Regions from separate parts of the Homo sapiens genome. Here all the other regions are reported to be linked to region 3. The links are microRNA targets in miRTarBase. Many come from high-throughput screens and were not tested one by one. Region 3 holds a microRNA gene; each other region holds the end of a gene's coding sequence.

The links. Region 3 holds the annotated microRNA hsa-miR-186-5p (CAAAGAAUUCUCCUUUUGGGCU, at 2,259-2,280, opposite strand). A microRNA usually pairs through its seed, bases 2 to 8, with sites in the 3' UTR of a target mRNA and lowers its output. Matches are read on the target gene's strand: a 7mer-m8 pairs with bases 2 to 8, a 7mer-A1 pairs with bases 2 to 7 and ends in A, and an 8mer does both.
Region 1: the mRNA of TSPYL4 is a reported target of hsa-miR-186-5p. Seed matches in the 3' UTR shown: 7mer-A1 at 1,632-1,638 and 7mer-m8 at 2,241-2,247.
Region 2: the mRNA of BEND3 is a reported target of hsa-miR-186-5p. Seed matches in the 3' UTR shown: 7mer-m8 at 3,550-3,556.

What each region holds. Positions count from the first base shown.
Region 1 is chr6:116,245,967-116,253,430 of GRCh38, reverse strand. It overlaps TSPYL4 (TSPY like 4), which reads left to right. Exons shown (of 1, transcript NM_021648.5): 1 at 1-3,467. The coding sequence ends at 667. NT5DC1 (5'-nucleotidase domain containing 1) reads right to left here. Exons shown (of 12, transcript NM_152729.3): 12 at 3,934-7,464. Among named protein-coding and RNA genes, the nearest start is that of TSPYL4, 4.4 kb to the left of the region's middle.
Region 2 is chr6:107,062,231-107,069,694 of GRCh38, reverse strand. BEND3 (BEN domain containing 3) reads left to right here. Exons shown (of 4, transcript NM_001367314.1): 4 at 1-4,513. The coding sequence ends at 991. Among named protein-coding and RNA genes, the nearest start is that of MTRES1, 38 kb to the right of the region's middle. RefSeq lists an enhancer at 7,443-7,464.
Region 3 is chr1:71,065,423-71,073,526 of GRCh38, forward strand. It overlaps MIR186 (microRNA 186), which reads right to left and starts at 2,294; the gene lies at 2,209-2,294. ZRANB2 (zinc finger RANBP2-type containing 2) reads right to left here. Exons shown (of 10, transcript NM_203350.3): 5 at 7,050-7,126; 6 at 6,699-6,833; 7 at 5,405-5,574; 8 at 3,854-3,940; 9 at 1,354-1,512. It overlaps ZRANB2-AS1 (ZRANB2 antisense RNA 1), which reads left to right. Exons shown (of 3, transcript NR_038420.1): 3 at 1,344-1,762. RefSeq lists a silencer at 3,081-3,130.

The DNA of each region.
Region 1 (7,464 bases), not on the chromosome of region 3:
ACGGCCCAGGGCCCCGAAGATCAATAACTGCATGGACTCACTGGAGGCCATCGATCAAGAGTTGTCAAACGTAAATGCCCAGGCTGACAGGGCCTTCCTTCAGCTTGAGCGCAAGTTTGGCCGCATGCGAAGGCTCCACATGCAGCGCAGAAGTTTCATTATCCAGAATATCCCAGGTTTCTGGGTTACTGCCTTTCGAAACCACCCCCAGCTGTCACCTATGATCAGTGGCCAAGATGAAGACATGCTGAGGTACATGATCAATTTGGAGGTGGAGGAGCTTAAACACCCCAGAGCAGGCTGCAAATTCAAGTTCATCTTTCAGGGCAACCCCTACTTCCGAAATGAGGGGCTTGTCAAGGAATATGAACGCAGATCCTCTGGCCGGGTGGTGTCTCTTTCCACTCCAATCCGCTGGCACCGAGGCCAAGACCCCCAGGCTCATATCCACAGAAACCGGGAAGGGAACACTATCCCTAGTTTCTTCAACTGGTTTTCAGACCACAGCCTTCTAGAATTCGACAGAATTGCAGAGATTATCAAAGGAGAACTGTGGCCCAATCCCCTACAATACTACCTGATGGGTGAAGGGCCCCGTAGAGGAATTCGAGGCCCACCAAGGCAGCCAGTGGAGAGCGCCAGATCCTTCAGGTTCCAGTCTGGCTAATCTCTGTCCTGTGAGAAGCTTCTGCACAAGTTTCCTTACCACCTCCTCTTGGACCTATGCTTGGCCAACAGCATGCAGTCTTCCATCTGCTTTCTCTTCATACTGTGGATTATCTTTTCCTTTGGTTCTAAATCTTCAGTAATCGGTTGCAAGATTGTTGGCTTACCTGCCTGTGCCATTCTTCCTCTGGGCCTTCATGCTTTTCTGCATTGTGTTAACATGTTTCAAGTGCATGGCCTTCTACGGCTTCTATGCCAAGCGTATGATACTATAGATATAGTGTACCATACTGCCTTTCTTTGCATGGCTTGGACCCTATCTGTGACCATGCTCTTCTCCCAATTTAAGTGGTTCTGTACCACAAAGAATCTTGATACATTTTCACAAATAACTGATTGGGCTTCATACTTTATGCTGGCTGTGTCCTGATACCCATGTACTTATGGTAAGCTATTTGGGTATTACCACTGCAAGACAAAACTGATATCTTAACCCGGCCATCAACCCAAATTGGACATTCCAGACTACCACCAACTGGATCCCAGCTGCCTTCCTGGGCTTGTGCCATCCACCCTACTGGTTATCTGATAGAACAAGCTGGTGGCTGATGGGTGACTGCTAGGCGTGACTGAGGTAATAGATGAAAAGTGTTCTATGTTATCACATTGGTTTTCCTGTACCTTTGGTTACTCTACGTCATGACCAGCTGCTGGTGAGTATGAAGCCTGTGCTATAGCCCACCCCTACTCACTCTCACCTTCTGGTTGAACTTTGCTTAGGCCACCATTGTCTGCCTCATCAGGAACTATCTGTAGACGTAGCTCCCAGGGAGCTCACAGCAACACCCCCTACCACCAGGATGGGCAGTAATATGTGACAGAGCCCAAAGCAAGGCTGGAACGCAGTCCCTTCCAGCTTAGTCTTTCTGACTCCTAGCCAACAAACCATCCTTAATGTGAGCAACTTCTTTAGGCATTTCCTCTTTTCCCCGCCTGCACCCACTCTGAACATGACAAAAGTTGCCAGAGTTGGGGCATTGAGGAAGAGATATTTCTGGAATGTGAGACTTGTTATGCCTCTGTCTCTTTCTCTCCCTCCTCCTCCCCTCTCCCTCCCCCTCTCCCTCCCATCCCTTTTCTTCCCTTTCACTCTGAAGCAGTTTTAGCTTATTAACAGAAAACAAAACTGGCAAAGCAGGCTTTTTGTTTAATTTGCTCTTTCCCTGATTGTGTTCAGAGAGAAAGGTTATGATTAAATGGGCTCCAGATCTCTTATTGCCCTTATTCCTCCACCCCACTTCTTTTAGCAAGGTCTGAAAGTTTCAAAGGGAGACCTATAGGTTAATTGTTTAGTTATAGGCAGTGTTAAATTAGGCAGATTTTGACATATTTATCTTTTTACCCCATCCATTCTACCAAAACCTGTGTATTTCTTGAGTTTTTAGTTTGAGAAGCTGGAAAGAGAGAGAAGGGCCTCACAGTGATGGGTTCAGGACGGGTCAAAGGCAAAGGCCTTTGTGATGTGAGCAAAGGCAACCAAAACTTAGCCTCACTCCACTTTTCTAAAGATGGAAATTCTTTTTTGGGCCTTGGACTGCTTCTAGGGTAGCATTTTGTAGGTCACTCTTCTCCTTTGTACTATTTTGTTTCTGCCCTGATGTCCCTTGGGTCTCCATCCTACTGCCTGGCTTTCTTGGCCCTCATTTCTCAGCTTCTGCATTTCCTTCCCTGCTCCTAACAAATGAAGAAGCAGGCTGCAGCCTGCATTGTGGAAGATCTCCAGCCTCCTTGTAGGGGATAAGGGGATGTGCAGCATCTGTGTGGATTTTCACGGACAAGTTCCAGTAGGTGGGACAGTGATGCCGTCAAGGCTTAGTTATGATCATGTGTGGTGATAAAGACCATCCACCATCACCCTTTTCCCCTTTGGTTTTGAAGGCCTTGCCCTAAGCTACCTGAGGGTTTAGGAGGTCTGAACACACACAGTGGAGAGGTTAATCTAGGTTGGGAAACTGAGTAAAAGTCCAGAGCAGGAATGAGCCTGCTGTGGCGTGGGTTTGGAAAGGCTCACAGGAAAGAACCTGCAGGATCAGGGGTGGGAGGGGAGGCCCCTGAGGTGCTCTCCAGGGAAGAGGGGCTGGGGTTTAAATAGCATGCTTGGAGGAAGATTTTCCTTCAATTTTTCCTAAGTCCTTGAATTCACCAGTAGATTTTTGTAAACAAAATGTAAGTCGATGTTTTCTCTCAATTATCCTAGGAGTGACCTTTATATGTGTGGAAGATTAATGGTATATGCTCCTTATGTCACTGTTTTTGAGTAAAATCCATTTCCTTTCTCTGTTTCAGCCTATGACAAAATTGATGTTTACAGGCCTGCTTTTTGCTTATAATTGACAACATGTGCAAAAATACCAAATTTGTGTCCTGTGCAGTATGAAGAATTCAGTGAATATTCATTAATGTATTAGCTTGTTTTGCTCTCTGTTCATATATGGCTCTATTCTTAGAAATATAATTTGAATGTGATCTTTCAATAGTCTGAATATTTTACAAATTATAGCTATGTCTTGTGAAAATAACCTCAAAAAGAAAAATACGACTCTGTTGTCTTACTTGATATTTCTTGCCCTAGTAATGTACTTGACATTTATGTTCCTAAGCAGTGTAAGTACCAGTAGAATTTCTCTGTCAAACTCAATGATCATTTAGTACTTTTGTCTTCTCCCATGTGCTTGAAGGAAAAATAAAGTGTCACTACCGTATTTCTTGTTTTCATCAAAAAATAAAAATAATTTAAAAAATTCTGTGTTGTCTAGGTTAATTTAAGGTTGGGAAATCATTAAAGTTATCAAATGATACCAGTAACTATCATCCTGAAAGTTTAAAAAAAAAAAAAAGGCAACAGCCACCAAACCTTCCAAGATTTTTCACCTGAAAAATGGTAAATGGGAGCCCAACTGCAACTGCATACTCATGAGCATTATTTTTTCTACATAACCAGTGCAGTTTTTGGTGGTAATTGAAGCACCATATAGTATCACTTAAAATACTGTTTTCAGTGGAAAACTTGTCTATGCAGCATCCTTGTTCATTACATTTATTATTAACTGTGCCTTCCGAGATCTAATAAGCTTAAGATAGACTTTTGGAAGAATTAATTATTGTGTATTCTGTCAGTGCTACTTAACATTCTTTTCTTACACCAATGTGTGGCTTTAAAAAGAATACCAAGAAAATATGAAATAAAATGTCTAGAGACAAATGATATCAGGTATCACAACTTTAATTACCGGTAATGATAGTTTTGCTGTATAGCAGCAATTACATGAAAGTTTATTGGATAAATACCTCTGCATTCTCTGCAGTAAGGAGGGCTTTGTGGATGCTACAAAATCTATGAAAATGAATTGCTAAGTATTTGTAGCCATCTAAGCAAAAATTTGACAAAAATGGCCCAAAATTTCTCATTTGAGTTAGAAACTTAATTAAACATACAGTTAAAATAGATGCTGACTCTTGGTGCAATTATTACTTGCAATTTCTTGCTGAGGTATTTTTTTCTAGGGCTAGAGAACTTTAAGTATTAGAGAGCTAGGTTTTCTTTTGCAAGCTCTACATCCATCTTAATCCTAAATTCCTCTAACAATGTTCATTTTACCTTTTCAGTTCAGTGATTGATTTCTGCATTGTCAGCCACCTGTTTCAAGCTTTATTATACCTTTTCTATGCCTGTTCTGGATGTAATCAGAAAATGTCATTTTTCCTACACTTGGTTTATTATCTGCTTTAGTCTAACCAATAGCATTCACTGTAATAGGCTGGCGCCACTTATTTGTTACAGATTAGCATGGTTTCTGTTCTGTTTAGCCTAATAAAATTAGTCATTAAATTACTCAATTAGGCATCTTACAGGTTTCACTTACCAACCAATTGGTTCACTGCTATAGCCCTGCTCCATTTCTTTGTATTGCTTTTCCTTCCTTAATTCTAGACCCCAATTATTCTTTATGTGGACCTCCAAACCAGTTAAGAAGTTCTCCCATCCTCTGGTCACCTAAGAAGTATCATTTTAGTTTCTCAGGCCATAATCCCTGTGAGTAGTGGTGACACTGCATAATTACCCTGGTCCTCACACAACACTTTCCTTGCGCTTCCATTTCTGGGCATTCAGTGCAAGCCAGACACTTATAAAAGGCTTCTCTGACCTTCTCATCAGGCCCTTCTCCCCATTACTCCTCGTGCTGCTGCTTTATCTCCAGTTAACTCAACGTCCTTAAATGTTTTCATCATTAACAAACAAAAACCAAAACAAACCCTTGCCTATATTTTTAATTACTGAGTCCCTGTCCTAGAGAATCACAATTTAAGACATGGATATTTGATCTTGTTTCAGTTACTTATTCCCTGGCTTCACAATCTCCTCAAAAGATCTGAGATATGTCAGGCACTTCGAAGTGCACATATTACTTTGATAATCCTTGTAACACAAGTTTTATTATTTCCATTTAAATAGTTGAGAAAACAGAGGTCCAGAAAGTAGAACTGCCTAAGATGCAAGTCTCACTGTTGAGTTTTCTGATTTCAAGCTAGCATAACTTCTACTCTATCACAGCTATCGTAATAAATTTGGCATACAAATGTTAACAAAAACCCTACTGACACATGACTATTCAGGCCTCAGTTGAAGGTTATGCTTATTCATGAATAGCCTTTGAGAAGGGTACATTTTATCACTTGATTTAATACAGGACTCCATACAGTTACAGATTGACACATTTGAATTTACTTATGTAACCTTGATGTTTGCTGCACATGAATGAAATTATCAGTTTGTTCCCTTCATCAAAGGCACTGAATATTTAATGTACCAAAAAGACATTAAACGTTATACTCATGGAATTTAGCTGCTAAGCATTGTAAGTAACCGCTGACATTTCTGTTAAGAGAATATTTATTTTTTAAGTGATTAAACTTGGTGATTGCTTTTAACACATTTAGATAGTAATTTATTCCTTTTCTTTATTAAACTTTGTTAAGCTTTATTCAACTTTGATCTTTACCAAGGAAACAACATGACCAAAGTACCAAAAAAAGTAAAATAAACTTGTTTTTTGAAAAGAGTCTGTGAACAGGTACATGGTACAACAAACTGATTGGCAAGCAGTCTATGTACTTTTCCAGTTGTCATTCTAAGTAATGACCCAACTTCTCTATAGGCCCAGATATACTATTTCCCACTAAGCTTACTCAAAGATGAGTTTTCATCACTCCTTCCCCATTTTGGTTACTTCAGCACCAGTGAGGGAAATTTACCAAGCAGTCAAGGTGAACATTAACCCAGAATATGAAGAAAGAGTAGGCCTGCTTACTGATGACCTTGACATGTGTGGCTTCCAAGAGGAACAGACTCATTATATGCTTTAGGACTCCTGATTCTTGGATCTCTATTTTACTTTCCTAGGTAAGTTTTATATTACAGATATTTAATATATTTGGCTAAATTATGAATTACTTAAAGATAGAGGCTGTGTCTTCAATGTTAATCCCTCTCATGTCCTAGCACGACATTATTGCTAAATTGAAGTGTGGTTTTGGGCTGAGAATTTGCCCTAGTCTAGATTCAATATTGGAAGACATTATGTATCAAGTAATTAAAAGTGTGATTTTGAGGATCAAACTTGGGTTCATGTATTGCTCTCTTACTAACAGTGTAACACAGAGCAAGCATTGTATTTAATCTCTCTGAATTTCAATTTTCCCATCTGTACAATTTAATAATTATATACATCTCATATGGTTGCTATAGAGAGTAAACAAGATAATGTACATGAAGTAGCCTAGTGAGGCTACTCATGACCACTGTTTTACTATTATTTCTGAGGATAGTTCTAGAGACCAACAAGAGACACCTTTCTGAATTCATTCTATGTGGACTGGACCATGCCCAGGGATTTTCAAGGGTGGCAATAAGACCATACTGGGTGAATTACTTGGTATGCCCTCATGGCTTTAATAAAAGCAGTCAAGTGTATTCCAGTCTTGCACCAATCTGGAACTAACTCTTATGATAGTCTTCTTGTACTCAAGAGGCTGAAAAGATGTAAGGGACTGTTACTCCAACACTGAAGATTTTAAAAAGCTATCCATGTATTTCCAACAGTCAGTGAAGGTTATTATATCTAGAGAGGCAGTTTGATTTTCCATTTTATGCTGATTTGTTATATAAAATAATTATATAAATTTATTTTCATTCAAACCAGTTCACTAAAAGTGTGTGTGTGTGTGTGTGTGTGTGTATTTAAAGTTATTTTTGGATATGAATATTGGTGGGGAAATAATACTTGATTTCAGTTTAGAGTTTAACAAACTCAGAAGTTGATTTTAGATTGTAATTCATGGTTCAGATAAAGTTTTTACTACCTCAGTATTCCAAATACCAGATTCTGACAAAACATTTGGTCACTGAGTCATTCAGATCTTTCCTCTGCTGATGCGATAAACAGTGGCCAGCAAAGAAAACCTCCGCTCGCTTACATCTATTTTTAGGTGTCCTTTAGATTATGAATGTTTGCCTGTATGCGAATATTACATGTCTTCTGTCCATTTATACAATTTTTTTGCTTCATATAACTTCTTTAATATTTTCTTTTTAATTTTTATGGATTTGGATTATTTTTAATCTTCATATCCATTGGCACTCTTTACAAAGAATGAAAATACAAATTTAAAAAGCCTAATTATAGTCTTTCTAATTACAGAAAAAAAACATTCATTAGAAGAAATACTGACTGCTAGAAA
Region 2 (7,464 bases), not on the chromosome of region 3:
CGACTCCTCCAGTCTGCCCGACGACATCTCAGTGGTCAAGGTGGAGGACAGCTTCGAGGGCGAGCGGCCGGGTCGCCGCTCCAAGAAGATCTGGCTGGTGCCCATCGACTTCGACAAGTTAGAGATCCCCCAGCCTGACTTCGAGGTGCCCGGTGCCGACTGCCTGCTCAGCAAGGAGCAGCTACGCAGCATCTACGAGAGCAGCCTGTCCATCGGCAACTTCGCCTCGCGCCTGCTGGTGCACCTGTTCCCCGAGCTCTTCACGCACGAGAACCTGCGCAAGCAGTACAACTGCAGCGGCTCCCTGGGCAAGAAGCAGCTGGACCCCTCCCGCATCAAGCTCATCCGCCACTACGTGCAGCTGCTCTACCCACGCGCCAAAAACGACCGCGTCTGGACCCTGGAGTTCGTGGGCAAACTGGATGAGCGCTGCCGGCGCCGGGACACGGAGCAAAGGCGCTCCTACCAGCAGCAGCGCAAGGTCCACGTGCCGGGCCCTGAGTGCAGAGACTTGACCAGCTATGCAATCAACCCCGAGAGGTTCCGGGAGGAGTTTGAGGGGCCCCCACTGCCCCCCGAGAGGAGCAGCAAGGACTTTTGCAAGATCCCCTTGGACGAGCTGGTGGTCCCCTCGCCTGACTTCCCGGTGCCTTCTCCCTACCTGCTGTCTGACAAGGAGGTGCGTGAGATCGTGCAGCAGAGCCTCTCCGTGGGCAACTTTGCCGCCCGGCTCCTCGTCCGCCTGTTTCCCGAACTCTTCACCGCCGAGAACCTCCGGCTGCAGTACAACCATTCCGGGGCTTGCAACAAGAAGCAACTGGACCCCACGCGGCTGCGGCTCATCCGCCACTACGTGGAAGCCGTCTACCCGGTGGAGAAGATGGAGGAGGTGTGGCACTACGAATGTATCCCCAGCATCGATGAGAGGTGCCGCCGCCCCAACAGGAAAAAATGCGACATCCTCAAGAAAGCAAAGAAAGTGGAGAAGTGAAGGCCCGTGACCTGCCCAGAGATTCGGGGTCACCAGAGGCTGAGCGATGGGCACCCTTGGGACTGAGCAATACTTGGGAGCACGCCTATGGCATCCACAGACAGGCACCTTATGTCCGTGGGGAGTGGCTTACTACATTTGCACACGTAAACACCCACCCAACCGCAAGAAAGAAGCCTTGAGTTTGGTCTCTTGTACTTACAACTTCTGTCCTATGTGCCCCGGCGGGGCAGCCTGAGTGTGGGGAGAGCAAGCTGTGAGGGCAGGGACCAGAGGTTAGGGGTCCTCTCTCCCTGGTTGTGCCCTCCCCAGCCCCTCACAGCTTATAATGCAAACCCAGCAACTCTCTTGCCCCTCTTCCCATATTTTACATCTTCCATTTTGACCCATTTTTTTTTAATTAAAAAGAAACCCTTAAAAAAAATCATTGGGCTCTTTGGGGGCCATTTTACTTAGAAAAAAATCTCTTTAAAAGTGCCATGTTCGTGCACAGTGGCTAATCATAGCTTCAGGTGGCATGGATACTGATTTTACTGACCTTGTTTTTTACATCTGATTTTGGAAGAGTCAAGATGCCCCTTGGATGGCAGTAGAGGGGATGGAATAGTGCGAAGTCCTTTACGACCACATGCAAGTTTTCCCTTCTGCTCTGGTGCCAGGGAAGGCTTCCGTTCAGCTTGGCCTGTCCTTCAGGCGCGTTGGTAGAATGTTGTGTCACTCTTTAGGCGAGAACACTGGATGATGATGATATGAATGTAGACAGCCGTGGAAACACGTTCGCAGTGTCTCCATCTGAGCCGTGTCCTTCCGCTGCCCCCATTCCTTCTCCATACATGGTTGCTGGTTGGAGGGAGTGGACATGTTTCCTTGGAAAACAGTGCAGGGGCTTTTGGCTTCTTGTTAGATTTAAGGGTGGGCCTCTTTGAGCTCACCATGAACTGTTTACTTTTCCGTGTGTGTATTTGTACAAAATCCAGGTTCCGGGAGCTTTGTGGTGACTTCCCCAGACCTCAGTGTTAGCTACTCCAGGCAGTACTACATCCTCATTCCTCAGGGCGGGCCCAGGTCTGGGCCCCTCTTGGGGATACCATGCATTGGAAGGACACAGGCCATTTTAGATGGGGTACACATGTCCCTTCCCAGGGTCCACTCAGAACTTTCCTCTTGGACTCTCTAGAAGGTCCTGCTGTCCTATACCTGGCCACCCCCTGCCTTGGGGGGCACATGTCTTCGTTCCCTCCCGACTGGGAATGTCAGGCTCCTGCAGGCCAGCTGCATGCTCTCCAGGAGCACCAACTGGGAAATCCCCTGACAGGTAAAGTCCTTTAAAATGATACTTTTACCTACCTAACTCTGGGGGCCAAATGCTTAAGAGGGAAAGGAAACAGTCGAATGCAAACAGTGTGTCATACCAGAGTCCTGGAAAATTTATTGAATCACACAGGGTAGTCATAGAACCCCTGTGGGATGGCTTAATATTTTGCTACTTTAAAATGCAGAGATAACAGAAACAATCTGGATTTTCTTCATTCAGCTGATAAGAACTTCAGTTCCAGTGGCTGTATGACATAATTTTGCCTGTACCCAGGAGCATTTTTTAAAATACAGGATTTTAAAAGCAATGTTAAGTTGCTGATCTAACTAGTAAATTTGCTCCTAAGTGTCATTTACAGATTATTTCTGTTGAAACTGCAAACAGATTTAGAAAGGCACAGGGACTGAATGACTCTCTGTCTTACACAGCTACTCATGCACACACGCACTGCTTACTAAAAGCTGAAGTGAGATGAAGGGGGCCTACACGAATAACAAGTTCAACTTCTTTGTGCCTGGAAAGGAGGGACTGGAGCAGCCAGGAGACTCACTTTCCCCCCTCGCTTGGGCCCTTCTCTATGCCTTAGTCTCTCCAGCACATGCACACAGCATGCACACACACGCACCCTACCCAAAGACAGCTGTGGCCCTCTCCCACCACCTCCCCCTTCCCACCGCTGGTTGTTGGGGGCTGGAGGCGGGAGGTCCCATGGAATTTGTTCTGGTTTCTAGGATGTAAACGAGGACTCCAAGCCATGAATTGCCCTGCTTTCTAGAGGGTGGAATGTTGACCCTGCAACTTTAGAAGCACAATCATTTATTAATAATTTTTTTGAAACTCCCATCTACCCCTGTTAGAGAAATCAACAGGTTCTAGGAATTAAATATGTCTCTTTGTAACCCAGAGCATGTTCAATTTTTGGAAACCGTATTTCAGTGATTTTCTTAATACCTTACATGTGTAGGGCATCTTCCCCCAGAATCTTACAGTCCCTTTCTGTGAAGAGAAGTGGACACACGTGGGAACTCTCACCATCTCTGGACTGTCGTCAGGAAACGCCTGCAGGTCCTTGCCCTGTCTGTATGGTGTCCTCACTTCTCCATCCATACAGGTGGCTCCAGTGGGCATTTTTTTATTTTAAATTTTTTACATGAAGCAATAGAAGTACAAAATACTTATTTTTTCAAAATTTAATGTGTTCCATGAAACCTGTTGGCAGTCGCTTTCCTTCCCCCACATCTAAATTCTTTGGTTTTTAGTTGTTTGTTTTTTGGATTTTTTTTTTTTTTTTTTTGGCCTTGTATCCCAAGGACTAAAAGATTAGCACAGACACGTTTTGATGTTGAATGAACTAGTAAGTCACAGTAGGTGGTAGTCTTCATTGATTTCTCTGTAAGTTTTTAAAGAATGTATGAAGATAGTCACGAATGTACTGAGTGTTCGCATCCCCCTTCAGTTCACCTTGGCTGTGTCTACAGGACAACAAATGTTTGACAGGGAATAAAGTCGTGTCTGGTGTCATTTGCGCTAGCGTGCCCCTCCCCTTTCGGTGTTGGCTCCAAACCTTCCTTTCCTTTTATGTTTGTGGGGAGTGGGGAACCACATCAGCAGCAATCATCAACCAACCAACCAATGGGATCTACTTAGTGGTGAATAGATTGGCTATTTAATTGGTAAAAGTTGCTGGTCTGACCACACCACAGCATGACCACTGGGTTCATTTAGAGATGGCCTCCGTTTCCAACGTTCCCCACAAATGTTTGCTTCTTTCCCAGTCAAGAGGGGATCTCGAGACTCCCGAGTGGAGGTCGTGAGCTTGCACCCCGCCTGGCTGTGTAGATCGACTGTATAGATACATGAAGTGGGGGTGAGGGCCAAGGGGCTATTACTGCTGTTGGGAAATACTTGCCTCTCGTAGATCCAGCCTTAATGTTTTTCTGACATCCTAGTAATAGCAGACCCTGCACAAAGTGGATATCAGACTTAATACTGTGAGGAGACAAAATAATGAGAATAGTTTTACCAAAGATAATGAAATCTCGCATCATGTCTGCATTTTACCATAGATTGGAGTGCATCCTTAGGAAACTGAATGTAACAAAAACCCAGGACATTTTTGGAAATTGTATGCTCTCTAGCAACTTTGTGTGAATTTTTATACAAACACTGTTTTATGAGTTATATAAAATGTTATAAAAATAGAAAAACATGGTCTCGTAACATGTTATTTTCTTAGAGCACTGGTCTCTCAGAATATGTCTTGGTCTATTTGTCTTTGTGCGTGGCCTCCTCACCCACCTCCCAGGGAAGAACGTGAATATTCCGGGGGATTTCAGCTTCTGGGGCTTCCATACTCTACGTGTCAGGGGTACAGCTCATAGGATTTCAGTTTGGCCACAGCTGAATGAATGAGAAATTGCCAGATAAATCCTCCAAACCATTTCTCCACAAACCACTTCCTGGCCATGTAGTGGGAGGCTTGTTTGACCTTTTTTAACCTTTCCTGGTCAGGTGCCAGGCCAGTCCTGCAAAGCCAGCAGAGTTTCATTTTCATTTAACCGCCTTTTTTTTTTTCACTTTGGATCAAATGGGTTTTAGTTTCCCGCCGCCCCAACCCTGCTAGAGTGCAGTGGTATAATCATGGCTCACTGCAGCCTCGACTTCCTGGGCTCAAGTGATCTTCCTGCCACAGACTCCTAAGTAGCTGGGACTACAGGCCCACACTACCATGCCTGGCTAGTTTTATTATTGTAGAGATGTGACCTCACCATGTTACCCAGGCTGGTTTCAAACCACTGGCCTCAAGTAATCCTCCCACCTCAACCCCCAAAAGTATTGGGATTACTGGTGTGAGCCACTGTGCCCGGCCTCATGTATTATTATTTGTAAAAAGGGATGTTTTCCCTCACCTTCTCTTCTCTTTGGCTAATTATAAATCATTAAACTTAATATTTTATAGTAATAATTAGGCCAGGTGCGTTGGCTAACACCTGTAATCCTAACACTTTGGGAGGCCAAGGTGGGTGGATCACCTGAAGTCAGGAGTTTGAGACCAGCCTGGCCAACATGGTGAAACCCCATCTCTACTAAAAATATAAAAATTAGCCAGGCATGGTGGTGCATGCCTGTAATCTCAGCTACTCGGGAGGCTGAGGTGGGAGAATCGCTTGGACGTGGGAGGCAAAGTTGCAGTGAGCCGAGATCATGCCACTGTACTCCAGCCTGGGCAACAGAAACTCTGTCTCAAGGAAAAAAATATATATATTTATATATTTTTAAATATATATAATATTATACATTAGATGTAATATATTTATATATATATAACATATAGAGTAAAAATTCTATCTCAAGATGTCAGAGAAACTTCCTTGGCCCAGGGATCAGAAGATATAAAGTAGTTGGTGGCTCGTGATTGAAACACTTACTACAGTGAGTATTTGCTTATTTGATAGCCTTGAAATCTATACAGCCAGCACATCTGTGCTGTAAACCTTCTCAGCAGGTGTGCCTTGGTTGGGTGCTGGACCTGAACCTCCAAATGCTAAATCCACTAGCCAGTTTAAGCAAGAAGTGAGGAAAAGCTAAATTCTTTGAGACTCTTGTGGCTGTGGGTATCTTTGTCTTCTTCCAAAAAGAACATTCACAGAGTATTTCAGTGAGAGTATACTTGTAAGATCTAGTTCTCAGAAATAATAACTCGACACCAGATTATCATGATCATTGGAATGGTGAAATGCAGTGGACTCTAAGGAGCTTTCAGATAAGTCTGGAATATCTGGGCCGGCGTGGTGGCTCACACCTGTAATCTCAGCACTTTGGGAGGCCGAGGCGGGAGGATCACTTGAGGTCAGGAGTTCGATGCCATCCTGGCCAGCATGGTAAAACCCCGTCTCTACTGAAAATACCAAAATTGGCTGGGTGTGGTTGTGAGCACCTGTGGTCCCAGCTACTTAGGAGGCTGAGGCAGGAGAACTGCTTGCACCTGGGAGGTGGATGTTGCAGTGAGCCGAGATCACACCACTGCACTCCAGCCTGGGCGACAGAGTGAGACTCCATCTCAAAAAAAGAAAAAAAAAATTTGGAATATCTGGCCAGTGGTGGAGAAAGGAAAGAACAAGCATTGCTTCTGACTGGGATGGCACCAACATTCCTTGAGTATATTGTATGTGCCAGACACTGCTAAGAATGGAACCTGGGCAACGTGTTATCCTTTCAAAAGCCTTGTGAGGTAAGTACCATAATTATGCCTTGTTAACAGGTAAGAAAGCTAGGGACGCAAATGGTGTCTACATTATCTCATTTGCTTCTCATAAAAACTCATTGCTGTGGTCACTGTTATTAACTCAGTTTTGTGGTAAGGAGAGAAGTTGGTTTCTTGCTCAAGTTCACACAACTGGAAATTGGCGGTGCCAGGATTTGAGCCCAAGTTGGCCTCTGATTTCCATCATACCCAAGCCACAATACACAAGACTCAGATCCTAAAACAATTGCAAGTCAGCAGTGGTGTCTATCACTCCCATCCTCTAAGCCCCAGTGTGTCTGATCTTAGATATAGGAGTGCTTGTTTTAGAATTAAGCTTCAATGACAGAGCCTTGGGAGCTAATGAATGTAAATAATAGAATTAGGGTGGGCGCGGTGGCTCACTCTTGTAATCCCAGCACTTTAGGGGGCCAAAGTGGGTGGATCACCTGAGGTCAGGAGTTGAGACCAGCTTGGCCAACATGGTAAAACCCCACCTCTACTAAAAATACAAAAATTAGCTGGGCATGGTGGCGCATGCCCGTAATCCCAGCTACTCGGGAAGCTGAGGCAGGAGAATCGTTCGAACCCGGGAGGCAGAGGTTGCAGTGAGCCGAAATGGCGCCACTGCACTCCAGCCTGGGCGACAGAGTGAGATCTTTTCTCAAAAAATGAAACAAACACAAAAAACTTATCTGGGCATGGTGGCGTGCACCTGTAATCCCAGCAACTGAGGAGGCTGAGTCAGGAGAATTGCTTGAACCCAGGAGACAGAAGTTGCAGTGAACTGAGATCAAGCCACTGCACTCCAGCCTGGGTGACAGAGTGAGACTGTCTCTAAATAAATAAAATAAAATAATAGAATCAAGCTAATTCTAAATAATTATAGCAATTGTGAACTTTTTTTTTTTTTAA
Region 3 (8,104 bases):
CAAAAATGTGTAAAATTACAGAAAATGTACAACAAAAGCATATAAACTTGGTAATGGAAGTGTGACTAAACCAATCCCTGTGACACGGTGTAGAAAGTGTAAGAAGTCTATTATGTAAAAAAGATACAGCAAGGCTTCTGTGTATGAGAAAATATACTCATAAATAAGTTTTGGAAATCTAGGTCACACAAGATGATTGTACAATTTGCTATAGGGTTATATTCATGCAGCTAGTATGAATAAGTCAATATCAACCTGGGTAAAGTAGTGGTGTTCCGTAGGGGTTGGCCCTGGGCTCAGGGTTGTTTAGTGTTTTCACCAATCACCTGGCTTATGGAATAGAGAACATGTTCATTAAGTTTAGATGACAACAAACTAGGGGGATTATATGTGGCTAAGATAAAAATTTGCAGAAGTGGTAAGAAAGCAACAGAATGAATTCCACTCAAAAACAGAGTAATTTTTTTTACAAAGAAACAAATGCAGAGAAACAAGACTGTGTGAAATCTTAACATCTAAACTCCAAAATGTGAAGAAGCAAAACTAATCATTCTGTACAAGTAGGAATCATGAGATAATCCTACCACTGAACCCAGCAATTAATAGACTTTACATAATCTTTATTTTCACAAGCTAATAAAATATGAAAAATTTGCAAAGACTACAAATAAAGCCATTAAAATGACTATATAATTGGGAACAAAGAGAAAATTAATGAAACTGAGTAATTAGCCTGTTGCAGAAAAGGCTGACAGATGACAGTTGCATTCTTCCAATATTAAAAGTGTCAGTACAGATAAAGTAACCTAATATAGGCCTTTCTCAAAAAAGATTTGGACTGCAAAATGAAAAATGTATTAGCTACAAGGAATAATTTCCTTATAGACAAAGGGCATGAAGCAATTTGCTGTGGAAATGCATTTACACATATTTAAATGAGGACAGATTCCCAATGATCTGAAAGTTAATTTTTTATTAGATGCTCTAGAATTCTTGACTATTAGTATTTAAAGAAGCCTAAGTATAAAAGTCAACTCATAAATTACTTCGACATACAGCTTCTGAATTGCAATCTCAAAAGACAGAAATAACCGAGAGTTGGCTATAAAAATTATAAATGGAACTAAAAATTTAAACAATAAAATGATCAAAGAATGGTTTGATCTACAATTCTAAACAACCTGATCAAAGTACAAAGGATAAGCAAAGTAATGTTTTTTTGAAGTTCAAAGTTGAAAAGTAGAAAGTCGGAACACAAGAGATAATAAAAATCTAACCCTTGACTAGGAAAGTTTACTTTATCTATTAAACACACTTAAGAACACCCATTCTTATTTCTACAGAAACCCAAACCTTTCGGGTGACCGTGATCTTGTTCGTCTTTTTTTGCGATCACCAGATGAAGAAGATCTAGAACGACTTCTCTTTCTGTTCCTCTCAGGAGAAGATGATGAACTTGAATAAGATCTTTTTCGTGGGGAAGAAGAGCCCCTGTGGGACCTGGAGCTGGATCTTCATTGATTGAGAAACAAATCAAACATTTCATTAAAAGAAGAAATAAGGAAGATTATTTAGTTATCAGATAGCTCCAAAAATAAACAGGATTTATAACAACTATGAAAATTTTATAAGGAAGAATACTTACTGCTTATTCAACAGAAGACTTCTGGATCAACCATGAAAACATTCTACTTAAACATTTTAATTTTGTCTCTTTAAAATTCTATCATGTGTAATTAAAACCCTGCTTACTATATCAAAATAGAATTTAAACTTTTTTTAAGGCTTTTCAAAGTATACACAAATATTATAGTATTATAAAATCAGCAGATAACTGCATTAACAGGACTTTACGTTTAGGAACTACATCCTTCCATTTGAGGATTAAAATATGTATCTTATATACCACTTCCTGAGGAAAATAAACATAATTCCATGTGGAATTATTCAACTCATTAAACTGTTATGGAAAAACCAGGTATATGGCACAGCAACAAAAGACTAGTAACTGTACTTAACTGCTAAATATTCAAGAAGAAATAAAAACTAACTTTAAGATGATTTATATTTACAATACTATTTTTATGAAAACCCACTACTTATGAAATATGAAGTGTTGACATTCACATGCTTCAGGTAGAAGTAAATGTGCAAATGTTTAAATACAAATTTTTTTTCTTCACTTGTATATTTTGGTTGAAGGAATTTAGCTCAAACTTCCCAAAAAATTCACCTTTGGGCTTAAAATAAAACCAGAAAGCCCAAAAGGAGAATTCTTTGGAAAGTTACAAGCAATGAAAAAATGTTTGGGAAGAATATGATGGGTGTTCTGTAAACCTTAATTATAATGGTTCCCAAAGGGAATACCAGAACTTAAGGATTTTTACCTATAAAGCGCTTAAATATTGTTACTAAATAATGGTAACAATAAAAAATAATTTGCTCTCTACTTCTATTTTTTTTTTTTTTTTTGAGACAGGATCTTGCTCTGTTCCCCAGGCTGTGGTGCAGTAGCATAAGCATGGCTCACTGCACCCTTAATCTCCAGGGCTCCAGTGATCCTTCCACCTCAGCCTATAAGAACACACCACCATGCCTGGCTGGTTGTTTTAATTTTTATTTTTAGTAGACGAGGTCTCACTATATTGCCCAGGCTGGTCTTGAACTCCTGGGCTCAAGCAGCCCGCCCACCTTGGCCTCCCAAGGTATTGGGATTACAGGCGTGAGCCACTGAGCCTGGCCTTGTTATCTATTTCTTATTGGCTTATAATGCAAGTGTGCACAACATTCTTTTCTCCTTAACATGATTATACTGTGGCAGCCCTTTAATGCTAAATTTGATTCAAAGCAGCAAATACTTTTACCAAAACAGCCACAGTTAGACTTCAATATGAATTTCCACAAATATGGAATTTCATTTTCTTATTTATTTTTTAGATGCCTTTAGGTCATAATAAATTAACTTAAAAACAAAGAGAGCATATTTTGACTAAACAAAGAAAAATTTCCTGCAAGAGCATCTTTCAAATTATGTTTCCCTCTACAGATGTGACTACATGCAACCTGAAACTTTAGAACACTGTTTACTACTTAAGACCACATCCTATCTCAACTAACCGACTATACTTCCTGATTTAGTTTTGAGTGTTTTGTGCTCTATAAATAATAGCGTGTGTAAAATTAGAAAGGAAAATGTATATACAGTACTCTAGTAACTTTATCTGATATAAATGGCAAATTTGTTTCTGAAAATATTGAAACAACTGCCGTGCAAAACAGGACCTGTTTTGAGGCAGGGTTATTTTTCTTCCTTTTAATAATGAAGAAAATTTTTCTTTTTATTTACATATGTAATTTTATTTGAACTACTATTAATTTTTTTTTTTTTTGAGACACTCCTCTGTCACCCAGGCTGGATTACAGTGCTGTGATCAAGGTTCACTACAACCTTGAACTCCTGGCCTCAAGTGATCCTCCCACCTCAGCTTCCCAAAGTGCTGGGATTATAGGCATGAATCACTGTGCCTGGCCATATATAATCTTAATATACTAGAGATGTGGCGATAAGACTTGGCTTCATCTTCCTACTTCATAACATCTTAGTGCCAAAATAATAAACGCTGCATATTGCAAAATAGCCACCTGATTTCAATCATGGGAATGTCTTGGCACACTGCTGGCAATGGAAACATTTCATGGTGAGAAAATTAAGCTGAGGCAAGTGCATTAGTTTTCTAATGCTAAAATAAAATCGACAAGTAGAAGCAAAATAAGGGGAAAAAAAGCAGCAACACCTTCTGCAGCCTTTAAATATTTTTCTCTCTGCTTTACAGAGAGATGCTACCTCATTCACCTTGATTTCGACCCACGAGATCTCGAACGTTCTCTGGAACTGGAACGAGATCTTGACTGCGAACTGGAAGAACTTCTTGAACGGGACCTGGAACAACATGGAACGATTTTTTTTTTCCAGGACCATTTAATTGAGCTTTGTGATATGAACACTGAAAGAAAGATATGTATTAGAGTTCATTTTCATATAAAAAGATAACTATACAAGATATATACTTTCAAAACATAGTATTTTAAATTAGATAAGATTTAGTAACAAAAGGTAATTAAAAAAATATCACTTTCCAGGTGATTAAATTACCCTAAAGCCACTCAACTATAAAACAAAACATTATCACTTTATTACAAAAACAATGAATACTTTGTTTACAAGTAACTAGAAGCTACCCAGAATACATCCAAGAAAACAGAATGTTGCGATTTATACTTAATTTCTCTAAAATGTCTCCATCATTTTCCTTTATAAATCCCCTTCTATTTTTGTTTCTAGTTAGTACAAAGTTTTGAATGTTGGCATGTGTGTATTTCATCCCTATATTTTTCTGTTTACTCAATGCTTAGAGAATTAAAGGGAAAATGTATAATTCTGTCATTGTTAGGTAATTATATTATTGGAAAATATGACACAAGGGAGACATGGTTCGTACAAATTTTAAAACTCACAAAATTCATTAATCTAATTTACAACTATAATTTGTCCCTTATAATAATACCCTGTAGAAAAAGATCACTATATTTTTACCAAAAAATTACTAGTTATAGCCCCACTTTGTTAAGCTTTCAGGCTTTGTAGTGCTCAATTAACATATATCTAATTGTTATACACTAATATCTAGTATTTTATTCCTAAATATGATTAAAATTCATTGCCCATGCCATCACTTAACTGTGATTAAGGTTTTTCAAGAGGACACTGTTAAATTTAAATCACTGCTTTCACTCACCTAAAATTTTATTTTTATTGTTAACTATAAAATCAGAGATTACATATTTTACATCAACAAACAATATTCAAGTACACCAAAAGAGTTTTAGTTTACGCCTGGACTTCTCAAAATTATGAGCATGAAGTCAACAGAACTAATATGGCTGAATTTGCTCCGTTATTCACAATACTGATATCAAAGCAAACTATTAAAAACATTATGTAATAAGCAATGATTTAATGCCTAGAAAATTTCTGTGCTAGCCTTTAACATCTTGAATGAAAATACAGATCTCCCCTTTACTTAATTTCTATATGTAAGCTATCTCTTTAGATTAATTAAATATAAGTGTATATAAAAATTTAATTCAGTTTTTAAGTCTATTTTAGTCAAAAGCATGAGGCTAAAATAGGTTAAGGAAGTTTCATGCTAAGACTTTACTTTTCTAAAAATACTGGACAACAACTGTATGGTACTAAGCTGAAAAATTATTTTAAAAGTTGATTTGAATTAAATTTTTAAAATAAAAAGGAAAGTTTATTTCGTCAAGAAAAACAAAATTTATAAATAAAAAAGTTAGATACTGACATTTTGACTGGTGTTACCCTTGACCTGTACCCGTTTACCTGGACCTAGACCTTGAACTTGAGGGGGAGGATGAGCGTGATGAAGATCGTGAATGTGAAGATCGAGACTTTGAGCGACTTCGTCTATTAGATTTCTTTTTATTACTATCTTCTTCTTCACTGGCATCAAGATTATATTTTGAGAGATCAGCGTCATCTTCATCCTCATCCTAACAAAAATTCAATTATAATTAGACATTTAGATATTAGTGTTACCTACCAGGAAAGATAAAACAGTTAGGTGTACTGAGCACCTCCATATGCATATATCACAGGTATCTCAGCAAATTAATTCTGAATTCTAAAATTCACCTACTAAACTCATCTCAAATAGAGACTTGACAACTTTGTCTCAGGTATTGCACAGACATAAACCTGGAGGCCATACACACTTTTTCTGTCACACTTATGCATCACCCAAGAATTTTCAAGTCCACCTCCTTAAAAGTCCTTGAAATCACCATTTTTAGTCTTAGACACTCTGTTCCTTATTCTCTAGCATATTATAGTAACCTCTTAGCTGGTCTCCTCAAATCTGAAGATCCATTCTGCCTCTCTAGTATCTCAATATACTGACAGTCATCACTCTGAAACACAGGACAGATAAACACATCTCACTTTTTTCTTAAAAACTTCAAAACTGGCTTATTATTTCTTTAGTTGCATTCCAAGACCTCTTATGATCAGGCTCTAAGGTACCCTTAACATGGCATAAAACTTACACTCTGGCCTGACAGAACAAGTATCACCAGACCTGAAATGTGTGCTGTCCCCCTCATCTCATTCTCCCCTCTGCTCTAACTATACTGGCCTATGTATGGTATTTTTGAAGGCTGCTGGCTTATCTCCTATTTAGGGAACCCGTATTTGCTGTTCTCTGCCTAAATGTGCTCTCACCTCGGCTCTTATTGCTGGCTCCTTCCTATCATTCAAGTTTCAGCTCAAACTTCACCTCCTTAGACATTATCCATCGGCAAAACCAAAGTTGCTTTTAAACTGTTATCACATCATGTGTCTTCATAACGTTACTGCTATCAAAATTACCTATTTATATATTTCCTCCTCTAGAACTGTGTAAGAGAAAACTGGTTCTGTTTCGGTCACCACTGTATCTCCAGAACAGTAGTGTTCCAAGTACAAATAGTACTTGGCAGAGTGGAAATCCAAAACCTTTGTGAGAACAAATGAAAACACAGAATATATTTTCACCAAGTGTCTGAGGCTGTCAAAAGCATTCATGTTATGGTATAACTCCAATAAGACAAAAGGGAAATAGGACAAGAAAATTGTTCACCTCATCTAACTTATATTTAGAAAGATCTTCATCCTCATCCTCTTCTTCTCCCTCTGATTCTTTATCTTCAACTTCCTTTAATATAGATGCAGGACCAACTGCTTTCCCTCTGTATTTTTTCTTTTTACGTCCAAACTAGAGAAAAACAATTTCAAAATGCTTGTCAGCTGATAATGCATTAAACTTAATACATTTTCTAAAAAATTATTTTAGATATTTATGATTTCCTGAAAATGATCAGTTGCTGAAGACTCAAATTGCACTTAAAAAAAAGTTTGTTTTCCTTTGCATTTAAGAATTTTTTCTGTTTTTCTAATTTATATTCAACCTGAACACCAAAATATAGCTTACCTCATCATATTCACCATCAGATTCTTCTCTTTCTATATATTCAACATTTTCTCTTTCATTAAAACCACCACCATATCCTTAAAAAAGAGGGCACAAATTGTTACCCTATGACAATTGATTTAAATAATAAACACATCATGCCCAAATCTCCAGACAACAAAAAACATCTAATCAACAATGGCTGCCTACCCATCTAATAAATTACTAGTCTTTAGAAAGCATATTAGAAATCACCACAGAAAATACAGAGAACTTAGTTGTAACGTCATATGGCTGTACTTCTAGCTCTTTTCAATTCCAAATTGCCCTACATGACTTATTTAATTCATAGAAAGTATTGGTGGAAAACATCTCAAACTTCTGCTATAACCAAGTTTTAAAGGACTTTCCTCTACAGTTAATCGTAATTCTTCTGGGAAGGGTGGGCTCAGTAACAACCAAGCATTAAATTCCACTGTTTACCAACTGCAAATAGTCTGAAATCTTCTGATATTCTGAAATTTTGCTACTTTAAAATGTAGCAGGCCTTATTAGAGCTTGGAAAATTCCTAATTACACAGACAAACACAATAACACAATAAAGGCCATCCTTTGGCCCTGGTTTAATTGGTTTTAACACATAGGTAAAAGTCACACAGGTTCTCTGAAGTAGCCAGTAAATTTTGAAATTAAATGATTCTATTAAAAAGTAGTTGAGATTAGCAAACCACTATTCTCTCATGTCACAACCAATGTATACAATTCAATTGGCAGGTCTCTGACATAAGCTTAAAGGAGAGACTGGAATTAAAGAAAATGAGCTAGTTTTAGGAAAAGTGAGTTGACATATTTTGAAAAAGTCTCCCATTGAAAATTAAAGAGGTATGTGTTGATCAAGAGTAATACAATCTAACTGGTCACATACTCCAGAGCAGTATCAGTACAATAAGGCCGGTGATTTCCAGACTTAGGGACTTCATTCATCAGCAAAATATTAAATAGATTTATAATAAAAATATTTTATAAAAATTAGGACTTGTAACTTAAAATTTGCCTATCATATTTAAAAAAATATT